4 linked regions of the Homo sapiens genome follow. The protein of the gene in region 1 interacts with the protein of each later gene in a biochemical or structural test. Each region holds a gene or a part of one and is shown on either strand. Other genes may lie near its edges. The genes, in order: TDG, RXRA, THRA and DTL.

The links.
Region 2: the proteins of TDG (region 1) and RXRA form a complex in vitro, tested with the Homo sapiens proteins (one study listed by BioGRID).
Region 3: the proteins of TDG (region 1) and THRA form a complex in vitro, tested with the Homo sapiens proteins (one study listed by BioGRID).
Region 4: of the proteins of TDG (region 1) and DTL, one has a biochemical effect on the other in vitro, tested with the Homo sapiens proteins (one study listed by BioGRID).

The regions. Positions count from the first base shown.
Region 1 is NC_000012.12:103,960,955-103,968,871, reverse strand, and holds the start of TDG (G/T mismatch-specific thymine DNA glycosylase), read right to left. Parts: upstream 3,001-7,917; 5' UTR 2,835-3,000; coding exon 2,812-2,834; intron 1-2,811. UniProt on the Homo sapiens protein: DNA glycosylase that plays a key role in active DNA demethylation: specifically recognizes and binds 5-formylcytosine (5fC) and 5-carboxylcytosine (5caC) in the context of CpG sites and mediates their excision through base-excision repair (BER) to install an unmethylated cytosine.
Region 2 is NC_000009.12:134,406,436-134,413,473, reverse strand, and holds part of RXRA (retinoic acid receptor RXR-alpha), read right to left. Parts: intron 6,915-7,038; exon of another isoform or gene 5,982-6,914; intron 5,326-5,981; coding exon 5,175-5,325; intron 4,535-5,174; coding exon 4,355-4,534; intron 1-4,354. UniProt on the Homo sapiens protein: Receptor for retinoic acid that acts as a transcription factor.
Region 3 is NC_000017.11:40,065,954-40,072,991, forward strand, and holds part of THRA (thyroid hormone receptor alpha), read left to right. Parts: intron 1-6,635; exon of another isoform or gene 6,636-7,038.
Region 4 is NC_000001.11:212,066,747-212,073,784, forward strand, and holds part of DTL (denticleless protein homolog), read left to right. Parts: intron 1-64; exon of another isoform or gene 65-65; coding exon 66-139; intron 140-1,477; coding exon 1,478-1,581; intron 1,582-1,852; coding exon 1,853-1,957; intron 1,958-5,354; coding exon 5,355-5,467; intron 5,468-7,038. UniProt on the Homo sapiens protein: Substrate-specific adapter of a DCX (DDB1-CUL4-X-box) E3 ubiquitin-protein ligase complex required for cell cycle control, DNA damage response and translesion DNA synthesis.

The sequences.
Region 1 (7,917 bases):
CAGGCGTCAGCCACTGTGCCCGGTCAATTAGTTTCTTTTAAAAATGCTCAGTAACCATTGATTAAGTAAAAATTTTGTTCAGGATCAATGTCAACAGAGGACAGACTCCACCTCTGGAAGAACAGGAACCCACGTGTTTATTTCCAGGTCCCTTACATTTGCTACAAATCCTCTAACACTGCTTTAATCTGGCCTCTCCCTTGAAACACAACACACGCAGGCCAAGGCATATGATTCTGTTAGAACACCTGAAACTTCTCCTAAATGCCTTCACTGGTCTTGAGCTTTAAGTCTTACAGATATTCATTCTGCCATTTCCAGTCAGACAATCATTTTGCTAACATAGGAGATGTAAAATCCAAATCAGAACAAAGTACTTAGGTGTTCTGTTGTCTGCTGCCACCATGCCAGTAGACTGGGGAGAAAACCCAAATCTTTTTTATTCTTCTTGTTGTCAACATCTAACCAAAACAGTCCTTCCTGGTCTCCTTAACATTTCTATAAAGTCTACTCTCATGCAAGGGTTAATCTTTCCTGTTGGTATTCTTAGTGGTCCATGCTACTCTCTTCCAGTTACTTTTGATTTGGCATCCTATTTTCCATCTTCGGTAAATGTCTTTTTCACGCCTGAGGTCACGGGAAACTCCCCAGTACCCTTAGAAAATTCCTCCTTTATTCCTCTCTGGTTGATTGACTGTAAGCACTTTCTAAGACTCCTGAACTATTTTGCCATTGAAATAAAGTCTAGGCTGGGCGCTTTGGCTCATGCTTGTAATCCCAGCACTTTGGGAGGCCAAAGTGATCACTTGAAGCCAGGAGTTCAAGACCCGCCTGGCCAAAATGGTGAAACCTCGTCTCTGCTAAATATACAAAAAATTAGCTGGGCGTGGTGTTGGGTACCTGTAGTCCCAGATGCTTGGGAGGCTGAGGCATGAGAATCGCTTAAACTCGGGAAGCAGAGGTTGCAGTGAACGGTGATCGCACCACTGTACTCCATCTTGGGCAACAGAGTGAAACTCTGTCTCAAAAAAAAAAAAAAACAAAAAAAAAAGTCTGTATTCATGGAATTTGAATTTTCTTCTTTGAATATCTGAAATTAGTCTTCTAAAAAAGTCGGCTGGGCCCGGTGGCTCACATTTGTAATCCTAGCACTTTGGGAGGCCGAGGCAGGTGGATCACTTGAGGGCAAGAGTTCAAGACCAGCCTGGCCAACATGGTGAAACCCTGTCTCTACTAAAAATACAAAAATTAGCCAGGCCTGGTGGCAGGTGCCTGTAATCCCAGCTACTTGGGAGGCTGCAGCGGGAGAATCGCTTGAACCCGGGTGATGGAGGTTGCAGTGAGCCAAGATCCGCCACTGCACTCCAGCCTGGGCAACAGAGCAAGGCTCTGTCTCAAAAAAAAAAAAAAAAAAAGTAAATTTATTTTTTTTCACATCCCACATTACATTTCTTGATTAGCACAGTCAAGGGTGACAGAGAACTACTCTCTTAAGGATTACCTGGGGTCTGAGTCATTTCAGAAGATTACACAGAATTTTCCACAGTTCCTGAAGGTGAAAGCTTTTCAAGGCAAAATAAAATCTGGTCTATAGCCTTTTGGATGAAGTCAGGCCGACATATCACAGCTTTGAGCTAAACAGTGTATTGAAGTCCTACTATTTTGCTGTAAGACCCTGAATAAAGTCTTACAATGTGTAATTTATTCTTGGCCCAAGTTTCAATTCTGCTCTTAAGTGAGGTTATGAGAGAGAGATTTCCACAAATTCTGGTGAATTCTCTTATTTGTAAAGTTCTTCTGGGAAAGAAGTGGAGTAATTTATTCCAGGACTTGATCCACAAAGTCAAGATAAAGTCCACACTTTGTCTACATATATCTCTTTTCCTAAGCTCTAATTTATTTTGGTTAGTGTGCCCTTTCATGTAACACCAATTCTCGGCATGTCAGAATCAGATTCCAGACATGCCAACTTTACAGACATGAACAGGCCCATATAAGTCCCTTGTATTGCCTAAATTCAGCTCCCATTAGCCACTGAGAGTCAGGATAATTCTTCATTAGGCATAGGTTTTTTTCCTTTTAATTTCAATGTAAATCATCACTCTTTATCTTTTAAAAAACTGTCACCATATCCATTTTTTAAAAATTTAGTCTTCCGCCAGGAGTTCAAGTCCCTAAATCTCCTGCTTTTGCAAATTTTTCTCTTGACTCCCCCAAAGGACTTTTTAAAAACGGATTCTTAAGATCGTCCCCAAGGCCACTGGAAAACTCAAAGGTCATTTTTAGATTGACTACTCGAGAGTGTATACATATGCCCACAACAAAATTATCTAACCCGTGACCCTTAAAGTTGCTTTCAGTAGGCCTTTGGGGTGGGGGGAAGCCGCAACAAATCAACCAACTTTAAAATGAAAACTCCTGGAGCTGGAAATGTTCGACACTCATCTTTACAGCTCTCTGCGTGGTAATGGAGGGTGACGGAAAACCCTTCTAGCCAAGAATGGCATCCAGAAAGACACATTAACCAAAGACTGCTGAATGCTTACTAATATATTTTATAGTCAACTGGTTATCGCGGGGAACCAAAGAAGGGTCCAGGTGCACCAGGTAACCCTCAGAGCAGCCCCGACCTCCACCACCACCGCCGCAGCCAGGGAAGGAAAGGCCGACCAGGCCACAGTGCGCACGCGCGGCCCCGGCCTTTGTATTCCGGCCGGGATTTAAAAGACCCCTGCGTGCGCGCGCGCGCGCCAGCCAGCCTGCCCAGCAGTGAGGGGCGCAAGGGAGGGGCGGCGCTGGCCCCGGTATTACCTGCCCGCGTTCTCCGCTTCCATTCCCCGAGGCCGCTGATGCGGGCGGCTCCACCTGCCGGGCACACGGGCAGCCGGTCTCTGTAGTACCGCGTGGTACTCACTGCGGTAAGACAACCCCAGAGACCTGGGCCCGATGGCTGGCAGTACCCAGACAGTGGCTGGACTCAAGCTCCTCCTCCAGGCTTCTACCGTCCCCCACGGACCCCCTTTCTGTGCTGCACTTCCGCCTCCTCGGAGCCAAATCCCACGCGTACTGGCCGTCACGTGATGTAGGACAGCCCAATCACGCTCACCCCCTTCTCGTTGGCGCCCCAGCTCCGCCGCTTGGCCTTTCGGGAAGGGTGGAGGACCAGAAGACGGGGACTAGGAGCGCTCTGCCGACGTCAGCTTTTGTCTCCAGTATTTTCGGGGGCTGGTGGACGCGTGGGCGATAGGGTGCTGTCCTTGGGGTGCTGTGTATATGGGATGATGACGCTTATCAGCATTATCTAGTCCTTTCCACCCCGAAATTCGCCCCGATTAAAGACTGTGTTGCATTATCAGGTAATGAGATGTGAGGGAGGGTCTTTGAAAGTGGAAAACCTGGGCGTCGAGGCCACTGTGCCATCTTGGGCCTCAGTTTCCTTATCTGTGAAATGAGGGTGAATGTAAAGCTGCTATGTAAAATGTAAAGCTCTACATAAACCACTCTCCGCATTACTTTGGATATATGAGAATATTAACGTTTGACGTCTACGAGACTAGATCCCATTCGAGCATCACCTCCCATAACCTTACAGACTAACCCCTCTTTTAAATCTCAGTGGTTCGTAATCTTACAGACTAACCCCTCTTTTATGTCTCAGTGGTTCTTGCAGCTGGCTTTTGTTTCATTAGTTCTCAATTTCTGTCACTGGTGTTTGTACTTTATTAAGGAACTCTTAATGGAATAGGCTTTTGGGTTTTTCTAGTTTGCAGGATGATGAAAAACATGGCTGCTGTATTTGTTGGCTTTCCTGAGTTTATTCATATAGTAACAGGTAACTCCAAACCTTCAGTGGTTTACAGCCACAGAAGTTTATTTCTCACTCACGTGATCTGTGAGCTGGGAGATGGCTGTGGCTCTGTGCTCCATGTATTTTCTTCATTCTAGGATCCAGGCTTTCGTGAGTAAATACAGAAAGATTTTTGTAATATATCAACTGTTTAAAGTTTGAGTGAAACGTTTAAAACAGTACAGAACTTTTATGAATACCCTGTCCATTAGTAGACACTACTCAGAACCTGGCACATGGTAAATATTCAATGAATATATGTTGAGTGAATGAAAAAAGCCCATCCTCTCTGATTTTGCCAATGGCTCAGGACCATCGTCTAGAAAAGTCTTACAGCAGGTGGCTTGCCTCAGTTATTTCAGGGCATCCAGAAAGACACATTAACCAAAGACTGCTGAATGCTTTGGGAGAGAATTCTGGTGACTGAAAATGTGTGTGAAGAGAGTAAACTTTTCTCAGGATGTCTGCACTCGGGGAATTACCCTTGGCAGCAAGGGCTTCTCTCACTGTGGGTTGCTGTGCTGGGTCCTGCCAGCTCCATTCATAACCTCAAGAGACCAGGGTCCTCTGCCCAATCTTGCATGGCAAAAGAAAGTTAACGTGAGGAGGCCGGGCGTGGTGGCTCATGCCTGTAATCCCAGCACTTTGGGAGGCCGAGGCGGGTGGATCACCTGAGGTCAGGAGTTGGAGACCCACCTGGCCAACATGTCGAAACCCCATCTCTGTCACCTGTAGTCCCAGCTACTCGGGAGGCTGAGGTGGGAGAATCGCTTGAACCAGGGAGGCAGAGGTTGCAGTGAGCTGAGATCGAACCACTGCCCTCCAGCCTGGGCTACAGAGTGAGACTCCGTCTCAAAAAAAAAAAAAAAAAAAAAAAAAAAAAAAAAAAAAAAGCTTATGGGAGGAGTTGTCGGTGAGGACACTGAACCTAAAAATGGTGAAGCAGTTGCAGCAAACTGGCTTTTATCCCATCAGTGTCTCTCTCTCAACATCCTGCATCTGAGTCTGGAAGACAAACTTTTTCTGCTTGTGAACCTGGCCCACCAGAGCTTTTAGCAATCTGGAAACAGAACTGGGAACTTCCTTGTAAACTTCCTGAAGATTGATAAATGACATCTATAAAAAAAAAAACAATTTGTCTTTGTTCATTGCTCTGGTGCTGGTTTATGTAGAAAATCCTGTGGAACCTACAAAAAACCTAGTACAGCTAATAGGTGAGATTCGCAAGGTTGCAAGATAAAATATCAATATAGGAAGATCAATTGTAATTTATGTACTAACAACAAACAATTAGAAAAAATACCATTCACAATAGCATCAAAAATATGAAATATTTAAGGATAGAGCTGACAAAAGACGCAAGATTTCTATCATAAAAAGTGAAAAGCATTGCTGGTAGAAATTGGGTAAGAACTAAATAAGTACACGGATATGTTGTATTCATGGATCAGAAGACCAAATATTGTGAAGATGTTTAAAGATTCAATATAATGCTAACCAAAATCCAGGTAAGCGTTTTTGGGTAGAAATTGACAAAATGATTCTAAAATTTATATGGAAATGCAAAGATCTAGAATAGCCAAAGCTGGGAGAGCTAATACTGCCTGACTTAAGAATTATTATAAGGCTACAGTAATCAAGACAGTGTTAGCCGGGCGCAGTGGCTCATGCCTGTAACCCCAGCACTTTGGGAGGCCGAGGCGGGCAGATCACCCAAGGCCAGAAGTTCGAGAACGGCCTGGCCAGCATGGTGAAACCCCGTCTCTGCTAAAAAACTACAAAAATTAGCCAGATGTGGTGGCACATGCCTGTAGTCCCAGCTACTCAGGAGGCTGGGATGGGAGAATCGCTTGAACCCAGGAGGTGGAGGTTGCAGTGAGCTGAGATCATGCCACTGCATTCTAGCCTGGGCAACAGAATGATTCCCTGTCTCAAAAAAAAAAAAAAAAAGTGTAGTATTAGCATCAAGAGAGAGAAATATATATCAGTGCAACAGAATAGAGTCCAGAAATAGACACATACATGGACAAGTGATGAACTGATTTTCAACTAAGCTTCAAAGGTAGTTCAGATATCTATATGCAAAAACAAAACAAAGTTGTATGCATGACACAGGGCAGGCAAGCCCTTAGCCCAGGAGTGTTCTTGGCTTCACCCAGGAAATAAATCAAGAGTGAGCTGAAAACAGTTTTATTCAGGCAGCAGTGTTACAACTCCAAGACTGCTCCTGCAGAGCAAGGCTGCCCCATAGGCAGTGTGCTCAGAGTAGCAGCTCAGACGCAGTTCTGCAGTCATATTTATACCCACTTCTAATTATATGCAAATCAAGGGGCTGAGTGTGCAGAAATTTCTAGAAAAAGGGAGGTAACTTTTGGGTCAGTGGGTCATTACCATGGAAAGGAGTGGTAGCATCTGGGTGTTGCCATGGCAAAGCTAAACTGACAGGGCACATTAGTTGGTGTGTTTTATGGAGAAGAGCTTCCACCTCTTCCCTGTTTTAGCTGGTCCTCAATCTGGTCCTGTGTCCAAGCTCCACCTTGGGAGTCAAGTCGCACCTCCTGCCTCACACCATATAAAAAAACAAAATGGATCATGGACTTAAATGTAAAACCCAAAGCTGTAAAATTTCTAGAAGAAAATATAGAAGACAATATTTATGACCCTGGGTTATATTTTTTAAATATAATACAAAAGGAAAAATTGATAAATTATACTTTATTAAAATTAAAAACTTCTCTTAAAAAATTAATGAAAAGCAATAAACTGGGAGAAAATATTTGCAGATCATATCTGATAAAGGACTTGTGTCCAGAACATATAAAAGAACACTCAAAACCCATAAGAAAACAACTCAGTTTTATAAATGAGCAAAAGATTTGAACAGATACATCACCAAAGAAAATAGAAGCACAAGAAAATATGGTCATTTGTCATATTCTGAGAAATGTCACTAGGTGATTTTTTCATTGTGACAATGTTACAGAGTGTACTTCCACAAATCTAGATGGTACAGCCTACTGTATACCTAGGCTATATTGTATGGCCTGTGGTTCCTAGGCTACAAACCTGTTCAGCATGTTACTATAGTGAATACTGTAGGCAATTGTAACACAATGGTAAGTATGTATCTAAACATAGGAAAGGTACAGTAAAAATACAGTATTAGGCCCAGCACGGTGGCTCACGCCTGTAATCCCAGCACTTTGGGAGGCCGAGGCATGTGGATCACCTGAGCTCAGGAGTTCAAGAACACCCTGGGCAACATGGTGAAACCCTATCTTTACTAAAATACAAAGAAAACTTAGCTGGGCGTAGTGGCGGGCACCTGTAGTCCCAGCTACTCGGGAGGCTGAGGCAGGAAAATCGCTTGAACCTGGCAAGCAGAGGTTGCAATGAGCCGAGATTGAGCCACTGCACTCTAGCCTGGGCAACAGAGCGAGACTCTGTCTCAAAACAACAACAACAACAACAACAACAACAACAACAAAACCAAACAGTATTAAAGATAAAAAATGTAGCAGGCACTTACCATGAATGGAGTTTGCAGAACTCCTTGTTGCTCTGGGTGAGTCAGTGAGTGCGAAGGTCTAGGACATTGCTGTACGCTACTGTAGACTTTATAAACACTGTACACCTAGGCTACACTAAGTTTATTAAAAAGTAATTTTCTTTGTTCAATAATATATTAACCTTAGCTTTCTGTAACTTTATAGACTTTTTAATTTTTTAAACTTTTGACCTTTTTGTAATAACACTTAGCTTAAAACACACATTGTACAGCTATAAACAATTTCTTATATCCTTATTCTATAAGCCTTTTTTCTGTTTTTAATTTTTTTTTTTTACTTTTAAAAATTTTGTGAAAAACTTAAGACACAAACACACACATTAGCCTAGGCCTACACAGGGTCAAGATCGTCAGTATCACTGTCTTCCACCTCCACATCCTGGAAGGTCTTCAAGGGCAATAACCCACAGGGAGTCGTCATCTCCTATGATAACAATGCTTTCTGGAGTACCTTGTGAAGGATCCGGCCGAGGCTGTTTTACAGTTAACTTTCCTTTTTTTT
Region 2 (7,038 bases), on another chromosome or scaffold:
TCTCTAAAGGGAGTGACTTACCTTCCCTCCAGGGCTTCAACCTAGAGCAAGGCATCAGAACACGAGAACCATGCACACACACGTGCACACAAACCATGCAGACATACACACACAGACACACAGAGACATACCACACCACACATACCACACCACAGACATATCACACACACACCACACGCACACCCATACACCACACAGACATACCACACCCACACCCACACGTGACCACTGCTCTCCAACCCCACCACCAGCCACGCACAGCACTCTCATCCACCCCCAAGCTCGCAGGGGTCTTCCTGATGCCCCCAGCCCATCACAGATGAGGAACCTGAGGACTGGGCGAGGCAAGGTCACTTGCCCAGTTCACAGGCCAGAAGGCAAGAGGGCCACACTCGAGCCCAGCCGGGGCTCCCTTCCCACAGCAGAGACCTGTGGGTCAGCCACATCCCTGCAGTGCACGCACATGCACACACGTGCACACATAGGTGCACACACGCCAGACCCTGCTGTTTCCACACCCAGTCCTTCAGAGCTGGAGGGTGGGCACAGGAAGCAAAGGCAGGCAGGAAGGAAATGGGAAGCAGCCTTCCTGAGGGAGGAGGAGGAAGCAGAATGGGGGACAGCCACTGCCCCCTCTAGACCAATGTCTCCCCCGACGACCCTGGGTGGAAGCTAGGTCTTTTCCATCGGACTGGGAACCCCCAAGGGTGAGGCCTGTCTTCCCCATCAGAGCACGTGTCCCTGCGGGACCCCCAACCCCTGCCCCCTCCCCGGCTTCAGCAAACAGGCCCAGGCTCAGCTTGGCAGAGGGCCAACACCCACCACTGCACGTCCCCCCACCTCTGCCCACCCCTGGTCCCGGGAATGCTGCGGAACGAGTCCCTCCTGGTGGCTGCCTGCGCGTGCAGGCCCCATTGCCCAACCTGAGATGCTATCAGCCTGTGGTATCCTACCGCATAGGGGTGGGAACCCATCTGCCCCAGAGCCAGAGTGGGCCTTTGCCGGGGGCAGAGTCACCGCATGGGGGCACCTGGGCCATCCTGCCTTCAGCCAGCCCTGGGACCAACCCCAGGCGACTCCCTCGCAGCACTGCACTGGGATGCGACGCCTCAGCTCCAGCCTGTTTCTAGGGGTCTGATCACAAACCGGGCCGAGGGACCACTTGACACCAAGGCCAGTGGGCGGAGCTGCCCACCAGGGGGCCTGACACTTAGGAGGGCTCAGTCCCCAGAGCCGACAGCTCCCATCCTGCATGCTCTGGGCCACAGGCACCTAGTGTTGGCCAACTTGGCCCCATAGCTTTCTCCAGGGCTGCTGCAATGCCTCACCCATGCAGCCAACAGCCCTGCCCTCCGCTGTCGGGGAGCCTGCCTTGCAGTGGTTTGCCCAAGAGGAGAGAGGGGAGTGCTCTGCACTTCAGGACCCATCTGGAGCCAAGGGGTCTTGCCCAGCACCCAGACGCAGGCCGGGGAGGAGGGTGCCTGCCAAGCCCTCCCAGCCACCGTTTCCACGTGGGGTCCCTGCAGGGCGAGTGCCTGGGCTGCACCAGGGGCCCCGTTACTGCCCAAGAGTAAGGAGCTCCACAGGCCTGGCTGTGCAGCCCACACAGCCAGGCTGGGGGAGGCAAGAGACTCCCCCTGTGCACAAGGAGAGGCACTGGCAGCAGGGCACGTTTGGCACGGGGGCCTCACTGCCTCCTCACCGCCCACGCAGAGGTGCCCTCCACACCGAGGCTGAGTTCTGCAGCTGTGTTTGGGGCGAGAGCGCTCGGCAGCATTCTGACTGCAAGTTCACGCCTCAGAATCCTGCTGGAGGCAAAGGGGAGGAGGTCCCTTGACAGCAGCAGCAGTTTCTCTCACGGCCCTAAGTCTGGTCTCCAGGGCTTATGCGCTGCCAAGAGGAAGGACTGGAAGCAGGAAGGACCGGCAAGAAATGGGGGCCACGCCTGGTGCTGGCCCTTAGACCTCCCCACGGCTCACCTCTCTATACCCCATTTCTCTGTCTCACAGGTATGGGGCGAGTGAGACCATGTGTGGGGATCAGGAAGGGGGTGTCCAGGGTGGTCCCCCACATGAGCTGCTCCTAACAGGACCCAGTCACCGATGGGCACCAGGGGAGCGGTCTGACCAGGTGATTCCAGGTCCCCCCAGCCCCAACACTGCACGGTTCCACTGGGATGGGATGGGGTGTCGTCCCCAGGCTTTGGGGGGCCCAGGCAGCTGGAGTCTGATGATCCCAGGCACATGGATGACTGGGCTGCAGGGCCTTAGGAAGGAGTCAGTGCAGCCTGGAGGGTCCGGGACGGGGCTCAGAAAGGCCATCACCGACTTCCGAGGGCCAGGTGTGATGACAGCCTCAGACTTCACGGACACTGCTCCCTGCAGCCAGGCCTGTGGTGCCGACACCTTTTCATTCCTCAGGCGTCAACAGCCCTCCTGCCTGCCTGCGTCTCACCGGGTGCCCGAGGCAGGGTCAGGTGCCTCCTCTGGGCTCCCACAGTGCCTGAGCTTCCCCTAAGCCTGCACTGGCTGCCCCCTGGGCCCCCCCTGGTTATCTGATGATCACTTTCAAAGGACAGCGAGCTTACTGCTGCAGGCCCAGGCCAGGCATCAGCCATGCACAGCGCTCTCATCTGCCCCCAAGCTCGCAGGGGTCTCCCTGAAGCCCCCAGGATCTGAGAGTGGTCTCGGCTAAACCAAGCTCTCTGTGCTGTGGCATCCTCACAGAGACTGCCAGGCTAAGGCTGCACACGAGGCCTTCCCCCCCCAGCTCCAGCCACGCCTCGGGCCTCCACCCCAGAACAGGCCAGTCTCCACGCCTGGGCACAGGGGCCCCGGCCACTGCCTACTATGCCTGCCCCTGTCCCAGTTTCCATCTTCCAGGGACAAGGCTGCACCTGCCACCACAGCAAGCCTCCCTGCCCACACCAGGCACCCGGAAGAACCAGACTGGGTCCACACCTCTCCAGGCTGGGTACACACCTCTCCAGGCTGGGCACACACCTCTCCAGGCTGGGCACATGCTCCTCTGCCCTCTGGTGAAAGCAACAAGGTCTGGATGGGGGCCAGGGCCCAGCATGTGACCCTGCGCAAGGCTTGAACCGTCTGCCCTCGGTTTCCCAACCTGCACAGCACAGGGTGGGCCTGAGCAAACGTCAGCACTCCATGAAACACGAATCCCCATCAGAAAGGCCTGACTGGCAGCACTGGGCATGGCCACACCAGCTCTGGAAGGCAGCTCTGCTATGCAGGCACAAGGACCTCACACCAGCCCATACACCACACTCAGCCTCGCAGCCCAAGGAGGACACCCTCCAGGAGCACGGCGCCTGGCAGAGGCTCTGATTTCTCAACAGGACCGTTAAGGCTGAGAAGACATACACAAGAGAGATGATGAAATGAAACTGCAGCACCAAGGTGGCCACTCAGGACATCCCTGACGGTGAGACAGTGGTGTGGGTCCTGTTTGGGGACCCCACCAGGGGCTGGCGGGGAGGAAGTAAGACACACCAGCCACACAGGTGTTGGGCCTCAGGAGCAGCACAGCAGAGGACAGAGGAAGGGTGTCCTGCAGAGCGGGGGGACAGGGACAGACCAACAGATCTTCACCCCAGACAGCACCTCCCACCTCCACAAGGCCCAGGGCACGGGACCCGATGGGAGGAACTGAGGCACACCCCCAAACGTGTGTGCAAACCATGACCCAGGGACCCACTAAGAGGCCAGGAATCGCCAAACCTGAGAGGGAAAGGGGATGTGACAGATGGGGAAACTGAGGACTACAGCCAGCCAGGACTGGGAAGTCACAGTGCCTGTGGGGCCCGGGACTCCGACCCAGGTCTGGCTGGATGACTTGACAATTTTGGTGACATCGGGGGAGGGACTTCCCTGCAAACCGCCCCGACACAGATTTGTTAATAAGACGAGCACAAAAACAAAAGGAAAGGAGGAACTGCTCCAAGAGCCTGGGGGCCATCCGGCGGCCCTGCGGGGTGCCACAGAGTTGGCCTCGGGAGGAAGCTGGCCCGGGACCACCCCTGGCATCCAACAGCTCAGAAGATGCCCCCGCTCCACCTCTCCAACCTAAGCAGTGCCACCTGAGGGTCTCCTTGACCATCCCCTCACCGGACAGCCAACGCCAGCCAGAACATGCCGCCCAGGACCCATGTGTGCCCACGCTCTGGGCCGCACGTGTGCCCACGCGCTGGGCCCCGCCCCCACTCCTGCCTTGGCCTTGCCATGCTTCTGTCCAGGCCACTCACTCCCTGTTGTCCATCTCGGGTGTCCACGCACAAGCCCGGGCCCCACTGTTTGTCCAACACCTGCCCGCGCCCCCACCCGACGCCGTGGCCTACCTTCCCGCTTCATGCCCATGGCCAGGCACTTCTGGTAGCGGCAGTACTGGCACCGGTTCCGCTGCCGCTTGTCAATCAGGCAGTCCTTGTTGTCGCGGCAGGTGTAGGTCAGGTCCTTGCGCACCGTCCGCTTGAAGAAGCCCTTGCACCCCTCGCAGCTGTACACTCCATAGTGCTTGCCTGCGGGACAGGGCAGAGCAGGGCTGGGGAGCACCCACCGCCCCGGCAGGGAGCCCACCCCCCATCCAACGCCGCCACTACCAGCTGGCGGGCCAGGCCTCAGAAAGGGACCTGCTGGTCTCCAGACCCCTGCCTGGGCTCAGACTGGGCCCCAGCCTCACTCTCTCTGCTCCTCCGAGGACAGCTTAGGAGTGGGGCAGGGACAAATCCCAGCCCACCAGGGACCAGGGCCCCAGGCAAGTCACCTGCTCTGTGTCTGCACTGTGCAGCCCGTTCTTCCCTCTCAGGCCGTTGGGGGTCAGTGGCACAACACGGGCCCCTTGCCCAGACCCAGCCAAGGGAGGAGGCGCAGCACTGGCTGCCCCCATGCTGACCTTGCCATCAGCAGCCACCTCCTCTCCGGAAGCCTCAGGCTGCCCTGTGCCCCACCCCACCCAACACTCACTGTCCCACAGACGTGAGAACCCTGGAATGGCCTCGCGGAGCCCTGGGAGTGGGGCATGGCCCAGGCACCTGCCTCCCTGCACCCTGGCCTTGGGTCCTGCTTGGCCCACAGGAGGGTGATTTGGGGAGGCCTCCAGACCCTGCAATGGCCTGACAACCCTGTCCCACCAGCCCCTGGCCCCCACAGCAGCGGTACCTGAGGAGCGGTCCCCGCAGATGGCGCAGATGTGCTTGGTGAAGGAAGCCATGTTTCCTGAGGGGTGGGCGGGGACCTTGAGGACGCCATTGAGGCCCAGGGGGGGCTTGATGTCCTCGCTGCTGCTGACGGGGTTCATAGGTGAGCTGAGCTGGGGGGGGCAACCACAGCAGTCAGCGGGGTGTACACCAGGTTTGTCCCTATGTCCCCCACGGCCCTGCAGCAAGGATGGCGCAGCTGTACCCCCAACTTCACACACAGACACCGAGGCTAGAGAGGGCCGTGCCCCCCACCCGCCACGCTGCTCCGGAGCAGCGGGGCCACTGTGCTTGCTCAGCAAGGCCAGCAGAGGCTGTGGCAACCTCAGGACTCGCCCGCAGCAGACCCCAGGCCTCTGTGGAAAAGGACCTTCAACACCCCCCCCAACACATGGGCGGTCCCTGCTTGCAACCCCCTGCCCGCTGCCCACCTAAATGAGAGCTGCCTCTCATTACTGAGCCCCTGGCAGTGCCCAGCCCCGCTGGGTGCCCCCGGACACTCCATGAGGCAGGCACTCTGGGGGGTCCCAACCCACACATGAGGACGCCGAAGCCCAGTTCCCAGGACGGAGGAGGGCTGGGGACCCCCCCAAGAACCACACATACACCCCACAACACCGCAGGGCAGGGGCCCTGGTCACGTGACCCAGGAGAGGGGAGTGGACACCCCCGGGCATCGGGTGGCACGACACCACTGGCCTCTCTGCACACCCCTCCGCCCCACCCGCCGGCCCGCACGCTGCCGCCCGGGCAAGCGTGGGAAACTCACCCGGTCACCCTGGCAACAGCTGCAGCGTGCAGTGACACAGCAGTTTTGGTTCCGCTGCCTCCACCCAGCTCTGCAGTCAGCGCCGAGGACCCACAGGCGCTTCCCGCTGCAGCCTGCCAGCCAGCCTGGCTGCGCAGGGCGGTAAGCGCTTGGCCAGGCAGCCCCCAGCCTCCACTTCTGCAAACCCCTGCCGCCGCTTGTGCGCAGGAAGCTCCCCTCCTTCCTTCCTCAGGCCTCCAAATCCCATCCCCCCTTCTCACGGGACAGGAAGAGTTTGAGGCTCAATGCAAGCAAAGCAGAAACCACCGCAAAGCCTCCTTTCACATGGACCTCGGTGCCTGGAATGAGTCTTCCAGCCCCAGCTTGTTCTGGCTTCTAGGTTCTTCCTCGATCTGCCCAGGTGGGCTGTGAGGCTTTACAAGGATGCTTGGTCCCTGCAGGACTCAGGTGGGCTGCGAGAGGCCAGGAGGTCCCCCGTGACAACTCAGCACAGTGGGGGTGCCATGAAGCTCCCACTGGAGAAGCGGGTGGCCACTGTGTGACTCACCAAATGCCCAGTGTTCATGTCCACAGGCAGCAGGTGCGCTTCTCAGAGAAGGGAGGGAACTGAAGGGGCAAGAGAAAGCCCCAGACGTCTGCAGAGGGGTGCGGTGCCTGGGCTTTGCACCCACACTTGACACTCCCTGCATGGGAAACCCTGGGTGTCCCAGATGCAGAGGCTGCGGCTCAGGGAGGTCAGGGGCTGGCCAAGGTCACACATGATCCCCCACGCTGCAGAAGGCGAAAGTGAAGCCCCTGGAGGGACAGAGCTCGTCCAAACTAAGTGCCCAGCTGGCCCTGCCCCGTGCTGGGCTCCGGGAGGCACCAGGGGACAAGGCCCTGCCCAGCCCTCCAGGGCTCGCTGGTCTAGTGGCTGTCTCGCTTGGAGGCACTGGAGGCCCCAGAGGCGGATCCCTGGCTCCGGATTCTGCCTGCCTCCTACGTTCTCGTGTGACATTCGGAAAATGATTTAATCACTGTGAGCCTGAGTTTCCTCGTCGGCAAAACTGGAACCATG
Region 3 (7,038 bases), on another chromosome or scaffold:
GGAGCTGGCAGGACCCTGCTGAGTTGGGTCCACTGCAGGGCTCACAATGGCCTTTCTCCACACCCCTGGCAGCTGAGGCCCACCTCAGAGATGCCCAACAGCTGTGTCCTTTTTGCCCAGCCTCAGGGCCTGGTTCTGAGGGCACAGCTGCCTAGACTAAGTATGTACTAAGCGAGGCCCTCCCACCCGTGAGTGCAGGTTCCAGCCTAGAAGGGGTACCTCTTCTGGAGAGGGAATTTGAGGAGGGGGAACTCAGGCAGGAGACATCGAGCCCGGGGGCACCAAGCACTTCTCGCTATGCTCCCCTCTAGCCTTGGACTATTTGGAGGTGGAGGCACTTGGCAGAGAACCCACAGGGCAGCTACAGAGGGGAAAGACTGAGGCTTGGTCTCAGGGAACACATAGCTGGATGAAAGAACAAGGCATTGGGCCGGGCACAGTGGCTCACACCCGTAATCCTAGCACACTGGGAGGCGGAGGCAGGCAGATCACCTGAGGTCAGGAGTTCAAGACCAGTCTGACCAAGATGGTGAAACCCCATCTCTACTAAAAATACAAAACTTAGCTGGGTGTGGTGGCGGGGTCCTGTAATCCCAGCTACTCAGGAGGCTGAGGCAGGAGAATCGCTTGAACCCAGGAGGTGGAGGTTGCAGTGAGCTGAGATTGTACCACTGCACTACAGACTGGGTGACAGAGCGAGACTCCGTCTCAAAAAAAAAAAAAAAAAAAAAGAAAAACAAAAAAGAACAAGGCATTATCTATCAAGCAGGTGATATACCATCACAGCTAAGAACAGAGATGATGGTGATGATCATGACGGCCATGATTGACCTGGACTGCCTAGGTCTGAATCCCAGCTCTGTCACTTGCTGGATGTGTGACTTTGAGCAAGCGATTTAACTTCCCCGTTGCCTCATCTGTAAATTGGGGATGATCATATCTACCTCATTTAGCTTTTTTGAGGAAAAATGTTTTTAAAAGTGCCTAGTTCATAACAAACTGTATATGTGAGCGGTTGTGATGGGTGAAGGAAGCTGTGGGCCTGGGGTCTCCCAGATTTCTTAGAGAAGCTTCGTGGAGAATTGGGTCTCCTAGACATCAGTGAGACTGGGGCCTGGGGCAGTGGGTCTCCAATTTCCAGCCTTCTCACCGTCATGTAATCTTTTCCTCCCAGACAAATTTTTGCAGCCTGGAATGAGTGTATGGGAAAGAGCCCAAGGCAGGCCCCTCTGCCCCACCCTCCTTTGACCCTCGCCCTTCAGCTTACAAGGAGCCCTTGGCCCCTCAGCCTGGGACACACCCCACCAGCTAGGGGCACCTGCATAAATCTTTGGGCATCACTGCATCTCTGTTCAGGGTCTGAGCTCTGGGGGTGGGAGAGAGAGAACAAGGAAAGCCGTCCCCTCTCTTATGTGTGGGCTCAAAGAGGAGGCAGTGCCCTTCCTCCCTCCTGGGAGCCCAGCATTGGTCAACCAGGACCCAGCTCTGGCTGATAGGCACCAGATTCCCCTGCCCTCCATGGAGTGGTACTTAGTGTGAAAGGTGGTGGCAGAGAGAAACTGAAGCACTGAGTAATGACCAGTGTGGTGGGCACAGCACTTTGAGATCCAGCATCTGTCCTGGGTTGCCTCTTTGCCTTTGTGAGTCTGGTGATCAGGATCCCCTCTCCAAACCCCTTTTATTTAGCCCTGCCCCTCAAGGTGAAGGAAGGACAATGGGAGGATACCCTGTAGGGGTGACGGGAAGCCTTTGGAGTGGGAACCAATCTCAACTCTAGTTCTCGGCTGGGCACAGTGGCTCATGCCTGTAATCTCAATATTTTGGGAGGCCAAGGCGGGAGGATCACTTGAGGCCAGTAGTTCATGATCAGCCTGGTCAACATAGTGAGACCCCATCTCTAAAAACAACTTTAAAAAGTTAGCCAGGTGTGGTGGCGCATGCCTGTGTTACCAGCTACTTGGGAGGCTGAGGCCGGAGGATCGCTTAAGCCTGGAAGGTCGAGGCTGCGGTGAGCTGTGATTGTGCCACTGCACTCTAGCCTGAACAACAGAGTGAGACCCCCCACACACACATCCTCTCAAAACAGACAGAAAACAAAACAAAAAACCCAACTCTAGTTCTCATGGCTGCAAAGGTGTCTAGGGGACTTTGGAGAACTGTTGTGTCTCTTGGGGAGGGAGGCAAGCATGACCGTGGTGGGAAGATCACTGGCTGGGAGTTGGGAGGCCTGGCTGTTGACATTCACTAGTCGTATGACTTTGGGCCTGGGTTTTCATTATCTAGAGACAATGGTTCCTGTCTCACTCAGGTTGAGGGCAAATAACACAAGGTGGGATGACCCCTGTGTTCAATCCATGTTGCATCCTGGCATGGTGAGCAATGCCTGTGGATTCTCCTTTTTTCCCAGGGCCTGGCACATGCCAGGGTGGGGCATACACATGCTGCCTGGAACCAGAGACAGTTCTCAGTCTCTCACTGAAGTATCTGGGGCTGGTGTGTGGTGGGGGCACATGTGGTTCCACCTTGGTGTCACTTGGCAGGCCAAAGCTGGGGTCATAGGGACCTCCCTCCGGTATGCCATTGCGTGAGGTGGTCCAGAGGGAGGGTCAGAAGTTTGCTGGGTAGACAAGGGAAGCAAGATGGGTGTTACTGGTGCCCAGGAAATACTATCCTTGCTTCGCTGTTTTGGGGGTGGGCATTAAAGGTTGATACCAAAGCCTCAGCCATGCCCCTCAGCAGTGGCCAAGAGCAGAATGATTGGACCAAGCCCCTGGCCCACCTCCTCCTCCTCCTCTTTTCCTCTTCTAAAGAAGAGATCGGCTCTTGGCTCCCAGAGCCCCAGCTGCCTGTTTCTTTTTCTCTTTTACCAGGCATGGGGGTGGGGAAACAGGGGAACCGAGGCTTTGGTGTCTTTCGGCATTTTTGTACACATCAGTGAGTGGGTGTGTTGTGCACGCATCCATGTGAGAGTGTTTTTGTGCATGTGTGGGCTGGGGAGGGCTCTGAATATCTCCTGGAACGGTACCCAGAGCCCTGTGGCTCTGCGCATGCGGGGTGAGTGTGTGTGTCTGCACGTGTCCGTGTGTGTGCCGGAGACTCAGCTGCATTCACGCGCGCGCTCTCTCCCTCCCTCTCTCCCTCCCTCTCTCTCTCCCTCCCTCCCTTCCTCTTCCCTCTCCCTCTCTCTCTCCCCCTCCCCCTCTCTGTCTCTCCCTCCTTCTCTCCCTCCCTCTCTCTCTCTCACACACACACTCTCAATCTTTCTCTCTTCCCTCCCCCTTCCTCCCTCCTTCCTATTCCCTCCCTCCTCCCTTTCTGTCCCTGTCTCTCTGTCTCTGTCTCTGTCTCTCTCTCTCTGCCTCTGCCAGTTCTGCTTGGTTAGGGGCTAGCTCCAGCCTCTGGGGTGCCTGGGAGAACATCCCTCCCTTTCTTTCCCCCTCCACCATTCCCTCCCCTCCTAGGCCATGCTCTTCAGGGCTTGCAGGCAACTTCTTCTACTGCCTTAGATGAGGGAGTGAGGAGGGAGGACCCCAAGCCTTGTGCCCATGGTGCCATCTGCAGCAAGTGCCTTGGCCCCGTGACATTCATGCCTCCAGCATTCAGCTGCCCCAGCTCCCAGCTCCAATTACCCGCTGGCTGCTGGGGGAGGGTGGGGAGAATGTGCCGTGCCCAGCTTGGGGGTGCTCCTGCTTCTGCTTTCTTGGCTACTTGGATCTCCTGCCTCCATTCCTGAGGGGAATTGGGCAGGGGGGGCGTGAAGTTCTGTGGGCTGATAAGGAGGGGCTGAGTTCTCCAGCATGGGTGTGGGCATGACCACCCACCAGTGGTCATGGGGGATGGATGTGACCTGGGAGGAGACCTCCAGACCTGGGCACCCACCTTGATGCCTGGCTGGAGCTGGCCCGGGCAGGAGGAGGGAGAGGAGAGCAGCAGGTGGGTGAGGCTATGGGGGAGCCGAGTGGGAAGCAGTCTTTGATGTTAATACTGGGCATCTGGCCCAAGTCAAGGCTGCTGTTTATGTCTTTCTGTCTCTGACCTGCAGGGGGGGTTTCCTGTTATATTCTTTTGGGGCGGGGTGGGGAGGATCCTTTGTTTAAGTAACCAATCTCCCCCTTATGAGGATCCCCACCCCATCTCCCATTCTCTAGCCTCTAAGGTCCCACAGTGGCTAGGTGATGAGTCACTGCCCCCCAGCTCCAGAACCTGTCTCCTGGGGGCCCAGTGAGAGCTCACCAAGGGGTGCCGCCTCCCCTCCTCCCGTCTCCCCCATGCCTGCCAGGCTGGGGCCCTGAGTCTGTGTGTACTCCTCTGCCACATCACACCTGCCAAATAGTACCTTCCTTCCCGCCTTCACTCCTCCTCTCCTTCCTGGCACTAGGATAACAGAGAGTTGGGTGGGGCAGCCCTGCTCAATCCATACCTGAGAATAGAACAGGGGGTATGGGAAAGGACAGGGAGTCCCGGTCCTAGAGAGGCCTCTGCCCCTCAGCATGGGGGCACATGTCGCTGCTGCAGCACTGCCACCACCACAGACTCCCAGGGGCCCTTGGTGTGGGTGGCTGCCTGTGGTGCCCGTGTTGGCATGGGGGGCAGTGCTGCCCATAGACGCCTGTGCCCATGCATGCCCATTTATGTGTCTGGGCCACGGTGGCCGCCCCGGCCCCTCAGCATCGCCCTTCCTGGCTCCCATGGTGGGAGGCTGGGTGATCAGGAGTGGGTGGTGGGGGAGGGATCTCCCCCCACCCTAGCAGCAGGCAGAGGGGAAGGGGAGAGGGAGGTGTGAACCTACCCACAGAACTATTAATAGCCCACATGCCAGGCCACCAAGAACCAGCTGTCACCGTGGAAACCATTCCTACGCCCCCCTCCCCCCAGCCTGCATGGGGTGGGACTTAGACAGGGTACGAAGCCCCCCACCCATCTTTCTTTGTTACCTTTCTCTCTTTGTCTCCCCTCCTTCATGTGTCTCTCCTCCCTTTATCTGTCCTCCTTTCTACCTCACCCCTTCTCCCCATCCCCCATCTCTGGCTCCCCTTTCTTCCTCTCCCTCTACTGCCTTGTCACCCCTAGCTCTACCCCAGCCCTGTCCCATTTCTTTGTTCTTCCCCCTCCTCCCTTCTTCCCTCTTTCCCCCACCAGCCTTTTTACCCCTCCTCCCATCTTTCCACCCTTTTCTCAGCCGCCCCGCATGTACGTGTCCCTGTGGCTGGCAAGGAGGGCTGGGCTTTCTTCAGAGCACTAAGGACAAAGTTCAGGGGCCCCAGAAAGGTGGGGCCAAAGCCCAGAGCAGATACGCAGGAGGGTTAATGCGGGTAGTATTGGGGGTTAGATCCTGGGGACAGAAACTCCCCTCTGGCAGCCCCAGGAGTCCTTTGGGGGTGTCCTCAGATATACAGGACTGCAGAGTGGGACGGCTCGGCAGTGGGAACCTGGCGGGGCGCCCGTGGATGCCGCATTGGCCCCGTGTCCCTGTCCCCCCATGGCAGAAGTACTTAAGCTTAATGAAATGCTTCCCCCTCCACGGGCACTTTGCCTACACTGCCTCCCAGCAGCTCTTATCTCACAAGGAGGGAGTGGGTGGCCAGGCCAGCCGACAGGTGGGTCTTGCTGTCCTGCTGTCCAGCCTGGGCACAGAACCCCATAGCTCCGCCCCCTCGGCCTCCTTGGGGCAGGGCCTCCCTCGCCTCTGCAGAGGAGGTACCAGGAAGGAGTTTGGGGAGTTAAGCTGGACTCTGGAGGAGGGGTGAGAGGCTGCCCTTCAGGGTGGGTACCCCTGCCCCATGCCCCTTACCCGCTGACCTTTTTCTGTCCGTGGCTAACACAGGCTCATGTGGTATGTGTCTCCCCACATGCTGGGCCCTCTGCCTCGCCTCTGTATCACCCCAAAGGCCCAAGTGTGTCCCTGGAGAGATGCCAAGGAGTCCCCAGGGGTTCCAGCCTCTTTCTGGGTACCCAGTGAGGGTGCCCTAGGCAGCAAGGGCAGCACCTTGCTCCTCTGCCCACTACCAGGGGCTGACTGTAGCTGGGCTGCACTGCCCAGCACCAGGGCACCATTCAGTTCAAAAGAGGGGTGGGGCAGAGAGCGAGTCTGCCCCTCCCCCCAGTGGGCACGTGCAGGCCCTTGGCAGTACCCAGACACATTTGGAGTTAAGGCTGGGCAGGAGAGAGGGATGGGGAAATAAACATGGTGGCTTAGGTTGGCACTGCTCCAGGTCTGCAATGTAGCAACTGGTAAGTGGCAGGGGCCTGGGGGAGGGGACCCTCAGGAGCCCTGGCCTGGGGCAGGAGCTGCCCATGCCATGTGGCTGCCACTGGTGTTCCCCGCCTGGCCCGGCCCACAGCAGCCAGTGCTCATTCCTGCACACACTGGTCCTCCTCGGCTGCCCCCAGGACCTGCTCCCCGGGGCTGCCCCTCTCTCAGCATGCCCACTCCTGTGCTTGCCTCCTCCCCTCCCTGGGGGCGCTTGGGCCTCCGGCTGGCGAGTGGATTTTTCCAGCTTCTGTAAACAAGTGGTGGCAGTGTGCCAGGCGGGCAGGAGACAGGCGGGGGCAGCACCACAGCCAGGGTGTGCCAAGCACCGAGGCACAGCCTGGGGGGCAGACGGAGACACCCAGACCCGGAGAGAGAGACATTCAGACACAGACAGACAGACAGACATGCAGGCAGCCTCGCTGGACGTGGAGTCAGAAGATCGTCCTCTATTGTCCAGCCCAACCCCCGTAGCGGCCCTCGCCCCCTGCCCCTCACTGTCTGGCTGAGAGCATTAGGCCCCAGTGCCCAGCCCCTGGGCTTCCCCACCCACTCCTTCTCCTCCCCAACCTCCACCCCTTAGGGCTGGCTACGCCATTATAAATTTATAACAGGAATTTCTCCACAAGCCAAGAAAAACTTGACCTACTTTCTTGATGGCTCCCTGGGCTAAGGCTCCCTGCTCATGCCCCCCCACCCCAGTCTCCTGTCCAGCCCCCAGTGCCCAGTCCTGGTCTGGGGTGGGTATCAGAGGTAGAACGGGCCACTTTTCTGTGCAATGCCCATGC
Region 4 (7,038 bases), on another chromosome or scaffold:
TGTTCCCTTGATGGTAAAGATTATGATGCCCAAGATAGAATCTTCTTCTTTTCTTGTGCTATCAGGATTTCCAGCAAAGTGTTACTGTGGTCCTCTTTCAAGACGAGAATACCTTAGTCTCAGCAGGAGCTGTGGATGGGTAAGAGTCTATTTCTTTTTTCTTCCGACGAGATCTTTTTTATGAGATTGTGATGAGGCAGTCACATAGTCTCATTATAATTGAATGTGTGTGCTTTCAACTGTCAACATAGCAAGTACCCCAACTGAGGAAAGGAGCTATAGATCACATTGGAAAATACCTAGTTGAAGGACTCTTGCTGGATAATTAAATGAAAGAATACATGTGTCACGCTTAGCACATTGTCTAGCACATAAGAGCAGTGGTAGCTGCTGTTGCTATCTTAGAAAAGAAGCTGGCTGGGTAGCTTGCTTGCCTTATGCAATATAATTTAGTCACTAATTCTCATTTTGAAGAGTAAAATTTCTGTTACTTTGGGTTTTGTCTTTTTCAGGTTTAAGAATATCCTAAAAGAAGAAATCTGATTCTGGGGATGTAATTGACATTTCTGGGAGTAATCTAACTAGATTGATGATAGTAAGGTCTAATGACTTTCACATACCTGTCATCCATGATTAGTCTGAATTCTTGGCTTCCAAATAAGTCTGCTCTGTGATGCTTGTTGATTGTGTTGTAGAATATTAATTCTATGCAAATGGAGACTCTTTCTTTTTAAGTTTCCTTCCTATTATATCTCTCAAGGCATCCTTCTCTTAAAATTTTTAATTTAAAAGATGATGGCTTACCAAACTAGGATTTCCATTGTGTCCTCTGGGCACTAAAACCCTCTGAACCAAATTCTCAGGCAGGAATGAAGGATTATCTAAAGGTTATTAGTTCTGCTTGTGAATGACTGTGAAAGCTTGCTCTGTTTGTTTCCAAGAATACTGTCATTTCATAGCAGGTCTGTGTTTTCAAGTTACCTTTATACTAGAAGTAGAGGATTAAGACAATTATCTCAATAGATGAAATGAAAAAATACTTTATTTCACAGAACAATTTGTTTAGATTATTTAAAGAGTTATGTATGGAGATATAACCACAGGGACAGAACTTGCTACTTATGATATCAAAAATATATGCAGAATATTAAAGGCTTAGGAAGTGTATTTTCTAAAAACAATGGAACAATTACTATCGGCACTCAACCTTCATCTTCCTTTTCCGTTCTCTTAGAGTAAACTCCAGTAACCCATCACTGGGTCAAATCACATCTGTTTCCGTTCTGTCAGAATTATAAGCCTGATATTGGAGACAACAGTATAAGATACTTTAATTTGTTTCCCAATGAAATATCCTTACTGTACCTAGTTAATGTGCCAGAGGAGTTAGATTAAAAGTCATTTCACATTTAGTGTAGTTGAAGTTGTTTGGGGTTGGAAGAAGGTCTACAAAATATTTATTTGCCTTGGTTTTTAGGATAATCAAAGTATGGGATTTACGTAAGAATTATACTGCTTATCGACAAGAACCCATAGCATCCAAGTCTTTCCTGTACCCAGGTAGCAGCACTCGAAAACTTGGTAAGCCTTTAATAGGTCTTTTGGGGGAGATAAGAGTTTTTGTTTAAAAAAAAAAAAAAAGGCTAATTTCCAGTAACATTGATATGAAAAATTCTAATATGTGAAGTTCAAAAGATAAAAACTCAGAAGAATGTTTTTGGTTTGTGTATATTTTGGGGACAAAGAATTCTGATGATGATTCTTATGAAATGATCTATTTTTGTCTCTACATTTTAACCTCAGATCTACTCACCATCATCAGGACGTGCTAACTTAAGTTTCCTTTTTCCAGGATATTCAAGTCTGATTTTGGATTCCACTGGCTCTACTTTATTTGCTAATTGCACAGACGATAACATCTACATGTTTAATATGACTGGGTTGAAGACTTCTCCAGGTAAGATATTAGTCATTCAAATTCTCTTACCAGGAAAGCATTATGGGCTTTTTTTGGTAATGATAATTTAATGGGCTTTCTTCTAAACTGAACTTATTAAGCCATATGAGGACTTTGGCATCTTTGATTACATCCAGTGATAATTTCATAAGTGTACATTCCTTGTGATGATTTCATAAGTTAGCTGAATTGTGCTTTACATGGTGACTTTATTTTAATAGAGAGTATCTCCTGAAATTATGCCCTTTGGCCTATATTTAGAATTCTCTCAATTTTTTATTTAATAAGCTGTGGAGTAGATAAAGTGCTTCTGCTCAGCTTTTTTCCTCTTTAGGGGCTGCTGGTTAAAATTAGGGGGCTGAAATTTTCATACCCCCAAAATAGTTTCAGCCTATCTCAGCCTTCTCCTTAATGTTAGAGGCCCTTTTATTTCTAGATGTTTTCCCCAGCCTCACCTTTTTTTTTTCCTCAAAACTTTAAAAATAGAATCTGATACTTAAAACTAATAAATAAATGATAGTTTTAAAAAGAAAACCCAAGTTTCTCAAGCATGCTTTCCTCTTTTTTTTAATCCTCTCCCCTCCCTCTTCCAAATCACCAGCCTCAGGCATGCTTTAAGAGAGTTATTTGGGTTACATTATTTTTAAGAACATCAATTTCTTAAGCAACATCTTAGTAGCCTGGTTATTCCTCATCTATAGATCTTTCAAAAACACTTTGAATTCCATAACCAATCCTCAGAGTTACCCAGTTTCCACTAAAGTAAAAAGTGCTGATAAACAAGAAATCTCAAGTACAGAACTTGTTTTATTTTATTTATAGATAGATGTAGATATAGATATAAATTTTTTTTTTTTTTTGAGACGGAGTTTCACTCTGTTGCCCAGGCTGGAGTGCAGTGGTTCGATCTCGGCTCACTGCACCCTCCGCCTCCTGGGTTCAAGCAATTCTCCTGCCTCAGCCTCCCAAGTAGCTGGGATTACAGGCGCCCGCCACCATGCCTGGCTAATTTTTGTATTTTTAGTAAAGGCAGGGTTTCACCTTGTTGGTCAGGCTGGTCTCGAACTCCTGACCTCATGATCCACCCACCTCAGCCTCCCAAAGTGCTGGGATTACAGGCGTGAGCCACCATGCCCGGCCCAGAACTTGTCATTTTAGCTGAGATCTTACAGAATTTTCCAAAGATCACCCCAAGCAATCTTATTAGGACTTTAGTATCGGTGGCAGCATCATAGTCTGCATTTCTGATACTTTGCACTGGGTCTAGTTTTCTCTAAACAGGAGCAATAGTATTTAGAAAAGGGAAGAGGTGTTTCTTTTGCTATTTTCCTTAATGGAATCTGAGCTTGGAGAGCTGCTAATTTAGTTAGTCAAATAAAATAGACTTTTCAACATCTTTCCTTGAAAGATAAAGCGTGATCCTGATTATATTATCAGATGTACAAGAGCTCTTTCTATATAATTTTTGCTACAGTGTGGCACTGAAAAGGTCCTTGAGTTTAGTGTCCTGCTGTCCAACACTTCGCTAATAATTTAGTAAACCTTTTCTATGCTTCTATTTAATTTCATTTGCGCAGATGGATAGATAGGTAGATAGGTTAATAGATCGATTTATTCCTTAAAAATTGAATGACAGCTGGCCATGGTGGCTCACACCTATAAACCCAAGCCGAGGCTGGCAGATCACTTGAGCCCAGGAGTTCGAGACCAGCCTGGGCAACATGGTGAAACCTCATCTTGACAAAAAGATGCAAAAAATTAGCTGGATGTGGTGGCATGCACCTGTAGTCCTGCTACTTGGAAGGCTGAGGTAGGAGGATTGTTTGAGCCTGGGAGGTTTGAGTCTTCAGTGAGCCATGATCTTGCCACTGCACTCCAGCCTGGGTGACAGAGTAAGACCCTGTCTCAAAAAAAAAAAACTGAATGACAACTGTGTGTGTGTGTGTGTGTAACGTCTTGTAATTACTTGTCCTTTTCAAAACTTCTGAATCGATCTTGGATTCGATACTTGATCTACCATGCTTTGTATTATGGTGTTTATATGTTCATAAGGATGACTTGGTTGGAAGTACTTGAAAAGCCCAGATCACCAAAGCAAGATTAAATTGAGCTCATTAAAGCCAACATACATTTTAGGAGGATTTTTAGCAAGGTTTAAACATTTACAGTGCATATCATACCAGCCTTTCTTAGACCAGCAGAGGGCAATAAATACTTACAGGTGTAGTGGGAAATTCAGGCTAGAGTTTTCCATTCATAGTTGAGAGTTGAGGAAGATTAAAAATTACAGTTTTAGAACAATGTTCAGAATAAAGGAGCTTGTTTATTTTGCAGTGATAATAGGTGTATACAAATTGATTCATATCCTGCCTCACTTTCACAGTAAAAATGTCTGATGTGAGGAGTATTTGCTATGCCTGCATAGCTTTTTCCTTTAAAGCTATAAATACAAAGTTCTTTTCCAGCTTTATTCTAGAAAATGGAAGAGATTCCTGTGAGCACTTATGGGAAGCTGTTAAGTCCCCTACTAATACTTTTCTCTCTGGAGTGTGATTGTTTTTTCCTGCCTAAAGGTATCCTTAAATTCTCCAATAATTGAGATTTTTCTCTTGTATTTCCTAGTAGTGTTCTGATGTCAGAGGCCTCAGGTTTTGACCTTCTTAGGATAGAAGAACCTGTTAAGAACATATGCTAGATTGGGTTACCTGCCCTTTTGCCATTGAGAGTGAGAAGGCTAAACCTAATCTAGTGCCTTACATATAAACAGTTTACTCCACTAGCTCTTCCACCATTCAGTCTACTCAAAGTGCTGGATTAAAATGATTCTCACATCCCACATAAGCTATTAGTAAGTTTTAACCAGAACTCAAATGATACTTTTCACTGATTTTTTTTTTCCTTTTCATGGAACAAATGTTTGAGGATCTACTCTGTTCAAAGCACTATAAAGTCTAGTGAGGAAAAAGTAAGATATAAAATTTATCCTCAAGAGGCCTGAAGTCTAAGGGGAAATTAGATGAATATATTATGCAGTGGAAAAAATCCTACCCTGGGCTGGAGAGAGAGGGTCTTATAAAGGCATTTTACTGCAAGTTGGACATTGGCTGGATTCTTTTTTTAAGGAATGTTTTCCCTCCAATTTTTTTCTCTTGATATTGCCATTTTCGTACCAAGTACTCAGACTGAGTTCATGAGATTGGATCTAATATAAAGCTTCCTTCTAGGGTTTTGTTTTTCTGCCAATGTCTAGTTCCCTTGTATTTGATGGATAAAGCTAGATCATCTGCTTCAATAGGCAATACAGTGATAAAACTTGTTAGAATATATATGCTGTCTATATCCATTTGACCACTAGAAATAACAAGAGCCAAGTAATTTGGTTTTTTTCCTCTGGCAGTGGCTATTTTCAATGGACACCAGAACTCTACCTTTTATGTAAAATCCAGCCTTAGTCCAGATGACCAGTTTTTAGTCAGTGGCTCAAGTGATGAAGCTGCCTACATATGGAAGGTAAGTTGCTAAACTTCACCCACAAGTGTTAGACTGAAGTATTCTTGCAAATATTTGTTCTGTCCAATATGAGATAAGTTTAATGTAACCACGTGCTATACTATTCCTGCATCAGATATTTAGTAAAGGTTGCTCTTGGCTCTTAATATAGCTGAAACCTTACTCTACTACAGAATGTATGACACTTTCAGGGCCATAGCTTGTCAGAAATTGACAATTTGTATCCTCTGTTTCAAAAATTATTAGGAAATTGAGAATTCAGAGGGTGATAAGAACCTTAACTACTTTGTCCTGCATCCTGGAAAACATGCTATACTGACTTTCTGCCCTATGTTTTCAAACTCTCGTTCAGAATACAGTATTTTGATCCCTAGGATCCTGTGCTTGAATCACCCATGGAGCCTTGCACAAAACAGAAACTCAAAAATATTTTTATGATTAATTTATTCTTTATTCTCTCCTTACAAGTAGCTGATCTTCAGGCCACTAAAGTAGATATGGCTGCTTTATCAGATTTTTATATATTTAATAGCATTATTTACTAATCTTTTTTTTTTTTTTTTTTATTGAGATGGAGTCTCACTCTGTCGCACAGGCTGGAGTGCAGTGGCACGATCTTGGCTCACTGCAAGCTCCGCCTCCCAGGTTCACGCCATTCTCCTGCCTCAGCCTCCCGAATAACTGGGACTACAGGTGCCTGCCACCACGCCCGGCTAATTTCTTTTGTATTTTTAGTAGAGACGGGGTTTCACCATGTTAGCCAGGATGGTCTCGATCTCCTGACCTCGTGATCCGCCCAACTTGGCCTCCCAAAGTGCTGGGATTACAGGCATGAGCCACCATGCCTGGCCAATAATCTTTTAAATAACTTTTTTAATAACAGTAGTTCTAAAGTGTCTACTGTAAGCTAAGAAATTTAAAGCTGTCCATTTGAAGTCCAGTGGAGAAAATAAAAATGTTAGACAACAGGTAGCACTTGCTTATTACTGAAAAATGTCTCTTGAAGGAATAATTAATTATGGAAATGTTCTGGGAATTCAGAGAATGATCATTAAGGCATTGTTTACCCATGACTAAGAATTAATTATCTTCTAGATTTCCCTGTAACTTCATAAATGTCTTTGACATTGGTGAATTGAATGATTAGAGTTCACATATTTTGGGTTTTAAAGTCATAATGTCTAAAACTTCATAGATCCCATAGTTCCGATAGTATCAAATCCCTTCTCAAGAGAAAGTTATATCATTTTTTATCCTGCCAAGCTCTAGAAAGTAATATTGCTAATTTTTTTTAGGACAGGGGTAAAACCTGTTTAGTATGAAGCATAATTCTTCAGCTTAATTTCTTCCAATCCTGAGGGAAGTACAAAAGAAAAGTGATTTCTATATAACTGGAGTTGTGAAAATGCAACACTACTTTATTAAAATTTTACTAACAATATCCTAAATAGTCACAGGGTGGAAATATTGCTCTATCCAAGATGCTTCTATGTTGGGCCTGCCTTTTTCTACAAGCATATTTCTTTCTTTTGTTATATTTTTAAATGCCTATAAAGTATATACTTGACTCC